2 separate regions of the Homo sapiens genome follow, and region 1 is linked to region 2. Evidence: fine-mapped expression QTL. A gene starts in region 2. The other region holds a variant in brackets. All regions are shown on one strand. Distances are between the middles of the regions.

Evidence for each region. PIP is the estimated chance that this variant, and not a neighbour inherited with it, causes the effect.
Region 1: its variant is fine-mapped to the expression of ADAT2 in cerebellum (GTEx, PIP 0.97).

Annotation. Positions count from the first base shown.
Region 1 is chr6:143,867,652-143,870,570 of GRCh38, reverse strand. The region is part of intron 1 of ZC2HC1B (zinc finger C2HC-type containing 1B); the gene reads right to left. Among named protein-coding and RNA genes, the nearest start is that of ZC2HC1B, 4.6 kb to the right of the region's middle. The variant A/G (reference allele first, on the strand shown) is at 1,216.
Region 2 is chr6:143,449,276-143,452,194 of GRCh38, reverse strand. It overlaps ADAT2 (adenosine deaminase tRNA specific 2), which reads left to right and starts at 1,500. Exons shown (of 6, transcript NM_182503.3): 1 at 1,500-1,632. The coding sequence starts at 1,537. PEX3 (peroxisomal biogenesis factor 3) reads right to left here and starts at 1,390. Exons shown (of 12, transcript NM_003630.3): 1 at 1,080-1,390. The coding sequence starts at 1,152. It also overlaps the pseudogene RNA5SP221. RefSeq lists enhancers at 1,550-1,709, 1,512-2,494 and silencers at 2,250-2,329, 2,390-2,469.

The DNA of each region.
Region 1 (2,919 bases), 420 kb before region 2:
AGTGGGTCATGCACAGCAGCATCCATCATCAAATGGAAGTGTATATACATGATTGGACTCAAGCAGGTCCTAAAGGCACAAGTAAGTTACATGAGGAAGTGGCTCAAATGCCCAAGGTGGAGACTCCTGCCACCTTGCCTTCTCTCCCCTAGCCTGCACCAATGGCCTCATGAGGAGTTCTCTATGATCAGTTGACAGAAAAAGAGAAGACTAGAGCCCGGTTCACAGATGGTTCTGCACAATATGGAGGCACCACCCAAAAGTGGACAGCTGCCTTTCTAGGACATCCCTGAAGGACAGCCCCTTCCTAGGACATCCCTGAAAGTGGTGAGGGAAAATTTTCCCAGTGGGCAGAACTTTGAACAGTGCACTTGCTTGTGCACTTTGCATGAAAGGAGAAATGGTCAGATGTGCAATTATATACTGATTCATGGGCTGTTGCCAGTAGTTTGGCTGGATAGTCAGGGACTTGGAAGAAGCATGATTGGAAAATTGGTGACAAAGAAATTTGGGGAAGAGGTATGTGGATGGACCTCTCTGAGTGGTCAAAAACTGGAAAGATATTTGTATCCCATGTGAATGCTCACCAACTGGTGACCTCAGCAGAGGAGGATTTTAATAATCAAGTGGATAGGATGACCCGTTCTGTGGACACCACTCAGCCTCTTTCCCCAGCCACCCCTGTTGTCGCCCAATGGGCCCATGAACAAAGTGGCCATGGTGGCAGGAATGAAGGTTATGCATGGACTCAGCAACATGGACTTCCACTCACCAAAGCTGACCTGACTACAGCCACTGCTGAGTGCCCAATTTGCCAGCAGCAGAGACCAACACTGAGACCTCGATATGGCACCACTTCTCAGGGTGATCAGCCAGCTACCTGCTGGCAGGTTGATTACATTGAACCTCTTCCATCATGGAAAAGGCAGAGGTTTCTCCTCACTGGAATAAACACTCACTCTGGATATGGGTTTGCCTATCCTCCATGCAATGCTTCTGCCAAGACTACCATCCATGGACTCATAGCATGCCTTATCCACTGTCATGGTATTCCACACAGCATTGCCTCTCTTTACAGAGAGAGAGGCACTCACTTTACAGATAAAGAAGTGCAGCAGTGGGCGCATGCTCATGGAATTCACTGGTCTCACCATGTTCTTCATCATCCTGAAGCAGTTGGATTGATATAACGGTGGGATGGCCTTTTGAAGTCAC[A/G]ATTACAACAACTAGGTGACAATACGTTGAAGGGCTGGGGTAAAGTTCTCCAGAAGATCGTGTATGCTCTACTACTCCACAACAGAGGTAAGGAAGAGTAGGCATGGAATACAGGAGATCTATTAGGGTGTCTCTTAGTATTACCATGTCCTGTGATTCAGGTCAATGGGAAACTACAACAGCCTAATCCAGGCAGGACTACAAATGGCCCAGACCCTTCAGGAATGAAGGTTTGGGTCACTCCACCAGGAAAAAACCATGACCTGCTGAGGTGCTTGCTGAAGAAAAAGGGAATACAGAATGGGTAGTAGAAGAATGTAGTCATCAATACCAGCTATGACCACGTGACCAGCTGCAGAAATGAGGACTGTAATTGTCATTAGTATTTCCTCCTTCTTTTGTTAAAAACATGTTTGTGCATGTACACACGTGTACTAAGAAGATATCTTCATTTTATTTACTTTTTCCTTCATCATGTGACATAAGATTTATTGACTTCGCATCAGCATTTAAGAATTGTTAACTTTATGTAATAGTATTTGGGTTGGGGATTGGTGCATTTCTGGTTGTATTAAGGATAGTTGTATTACGTTAGGCATAATTATGACCTTATTATTGTCTTTATTTGAAGATTATGTATGATCTCAGGAGATGGGTATGGGTTGAAGTTGACAAGAGGTAGACTTGTGATGGTTAATACTGAGTGTCAACCTGATTGGAAAGAAGGATGCAAAGTTATTGATCCTGGGTGTGTCTGAGAGGGTGTTACCAGAGGAGATTAACATTTGAGTTAGTGGGCTGGGGAAGGCAGACTCATCCTTAATCTGGGTGGGCACCACCTAGTCACCTGCCAGCGCAGATCGAATCTAAAGCAGGCAGAAAAAAAAAATGTGAAAAGACTAGACTGGCCTAGCCTCCCAGCCTACATCTTTCTCCTGTGCTGGATGCTTCCTGCCCTCAAACATTGAACTCCAAGTTCTTCAGTTTTGGCACTGTACTGGTTGTCCTTGCTCCTCAGCTTGCAGACGGCCTATTGTGGGACCTTGTGATTGTGAGTTAATACTTAATAAATTCCCCTTTATATACAGATCTAGCCTATTAGTTCCATCCCTCTAGAGAACCCTAATACACCTTCTGATTTAAAAGACTCAGTAAAATGGAAGTTTCAGAACAGTGAAGACAGATTCTACAGACTTCCAAAGAAAAATCAGATACAAATGATCAGCAATCAGGATGGCTTCAGATTCCCAAAAAGCAAAATTGGAAATGGAAACAAATGGAAGAAACCCTTTAAACTTCTGAGGTAAAATAATCTACAACCAAGAATTCTATATTCAGTCAAGCTGTCAATCCAACATAAGAGTAGAATATATTTCCAGACATCCAAGTTCCCAAAAAGTCTACATCCCCTGTACCCCATTTCATGAATTACTGGAGGACGTGATCCACAAGCATGTGAATGAGATATAGGAAAAGGCAATTATAGACTGGATAGAGAAAAGGGAATTCCCAGTATGATAGCTGGGCACAACAACCAAAGAGCAACCAGTCGAGGTTTGAGGTGTGTGATTAGAGACAGACGTGTTGACGGCTATCACGACTAAGATATTCACTGCCTTCATAATCTCAAGATAGTATATTCAAGGAAGTCTGGCTCCCATTTTGTTCTACACTTGTCATGTTTGGCTATATTCTAATAAAGTG
Region 2 (2,919 bases):
TTCAAACTTTCAAGCATCACCAAAATCTGAACTATTGATGCTAAAGGTATTAATTGCAAATTGTTTGGGGAGAACAGAATACAATCTAATACGTACTGTTAATTTCAAATTGTTTGGGGAGAACAGAATACAATCTAATACTAAGAGAAAAGCCAACCAAATTCTTTGGGAAACTCTGTTCTTGATTTTAAGTACTTTTGTAAACATAGCATGTAATAAGTGATGAGACTATTTCTCAAAAACTCAAGTTCTAACAAATTTCCTCTTTTATAGTTCCTAGATGTCCTTTTCATATAATTCACAAAACTTTTATTCCCTCCTTCAAATCCCTGAATATTATCACATGAGCATTGTATGAGGGAAAAGCGTCTCAAGATTTTTATCTTATCTGTTTCTAAATCTCCTCTGGGCCTGTGCAACTCAGTTATGTCAGCTAGATTACAATGATCCCAACCTTGAAGATCCTGAGGAAGATTGCACAACATCCCTCAAGCATTTTTCTTACTGCCATAGTTTGTATTCTAAAATGGCAGAAACAGAGCTAAAATATTGATTTGTTTTTCTTTATCTAATCCATATCTTTCAGTCCTTTAGGACAACTGCGCTGTTTTCAAAAATTCAAATCGACTTTAACCACCACCCGAAGTGCAGCCTATAGGTAACTTCCCTAGATTATTATTAAACTCCTGAGAAGGGTGAGAGCCAAAGTATCAAGAGTGCCAAGGAGAAATGCAGAATCTCACAGGAAAGCAGAATTTTTTTTAAAAAGTTCCTGTAAGAGAATGGTGCCTTGAAACAGAAACTTAAACTGTGATGAGTTCTCCAAAGGTCCGTGAGAAAAAAGGATAGGTGAGAAACAGAGTTAAGAGTCGGTGACAGGGCAAAGGGCACAGAGGCATTTCTCAACTGCAGAGATGGGAGAACCCTGGAGGTTGGCCACCTCCCTTTTCATCCCATGGTTGATCGAACTCCCTCTACATATCCCAGACTAGGATCGCCCGGCCTGTCCTTATTTTAGAAGAAGTCACCTCTCCCACCCCCTTCTCCCAATGCCCCCTTTCAAGCACGTTGTCACCCACCTCCAAGGACCGTGCCCAGGAAGATGCATTTCTTTTTGTGGCGTTTCAGAAAATTCCATACAGACCTCAGCATCTTTAGGCCCTAGGGGTGTGGGCTGACTAGGGGTGAGGGACTGCTTCACCAGGAAACTGTTTCTTCGTCACCTGGCCCAGATGACCCAGCAAGAGCGCCGTCGTCCCGTTCTGTGCTCTCCCGAAATCACAAACGTGACTTTCCGCAGAGACTGTCACCGGAGCGGCAAGGGGGCGTGGACTACAGCAAAGCAGCTACGCTTTCTGCCGCTGCCGCCGCGCAGCCGCCGCCGCTCACTGGTCCGACAAGCCCAGGTCCGTTCAGAAATAGCTCCCGAGTGCCTTTTCATTAGACTACCCCCGGAAACGGGGTCCCGGGCCCGCCGCGTTCCGCTGCCCGCGCTCCTCCTCTGCCGCGGGCTCTGTAGCTGAGTGGTGGCTGGGTATGGAGGCGAAGGCGGCACCCAAGCCAGCTGCAAGCGGCGCGTGCTCGGTGTCGGCAGAGGAGACCGAAAAGTGGATGGAGGAGGCGATGCACATGGTGAGGAGCCCGGGAGGTAGATGCTGCGGGGTGGGACCTTTCTCCAGCCCTCAACCCGACCCCGGCATTTGAGCAAACGTTCTTTCTCGTCACCATAATTTTTATGGCAGTCAGATGTTCTGGGTGAACAACTGGCTTTACTGCCTCGAAACTTTCTGTAGCCCATTCTCACAGTGGCTCTGGGCGAAGGAAGGGGAGGAAATACACAAATTATTTGTTTCATTGCGGTGGAGTATGCTGCAGACTTAACATTCTGTCGCCGGCTGGCACGTGCTGCCTCCCTTTCCTTTCTGTGGTCACACACTCTCCAATCTACAAAGTCACATTATTTGAGGTTTTGGCCCTTGGAACATGTCCAGCAGAAGGAAGGAAACTGAGAACGTTTCTGGTAGAGAGCAGTATGGAAACAAGTCCCTGTACAATCGGCGTCTCGCATTCATTCATTATTTCCTCTGCCCTTTTACTTCCTTCCCTCACTCCCTTCAGGACTGCGAAATAAAGGGGGCTTTCAACAGAATGCTGTGTGCTAGCGAGCTTCTTAACTGGGAAAAAAAGTTTGTTTGTAAATATATGTATTTACATTTTAATAACTACATACAGCCACGTGCCACACAATGACCTGTCGGTAAAGGTCGTTATCCTGGAGCATTAAATCTACTCACCTTAGCCCTATTGTCCCATCCAAGTACTAACCAGGCCTGACCCTGCTTAGCTTCCGAGATCGGGGGACATTCAGGGTGGTATGGAGGTAGACAACCCTAGTTTCTATGTAGACTTCTGGGCTAAACACTTTCGCTACCTTTTAGGTTGACCCTGGGCTAGCACATGTAAATACATTTACATACGTTTACAAACAAACTTTTATCCCAGTTAAGAAGCTCGCTAGCACTTTTCAGCTCCATTATAATCTTATAGGACCACATATACAGCGGTGGTGCTATAGGATTATAATGAAGCTGAAAAGTTCCTGTTGCCCAGTGACATGTAGCCCTCCTAACAAGTACTTTTTTTCCTTTAAGACCTTGAAGAAACTTGTATATGCTAAAACCCAAGAAGCAGCTGCCTCCTTAATCCTGTGTAGGAGGACGTAAACTATGGAATCACATCCCTAGGTGTTTATAATACAATTAAGAGACAAAAAATGTCAAAGCCAGAGAGGTCTAGAAATTCTTTGAAAACATCTACATGTTTAAAAAGATACAAAGTAGCATGGCCAGATGCAGTGGCTCATGCCTGTAATCCCAAAACTTTGGAAGGCAGAAGCAAGAGGATCTCTTGATCTCAAAA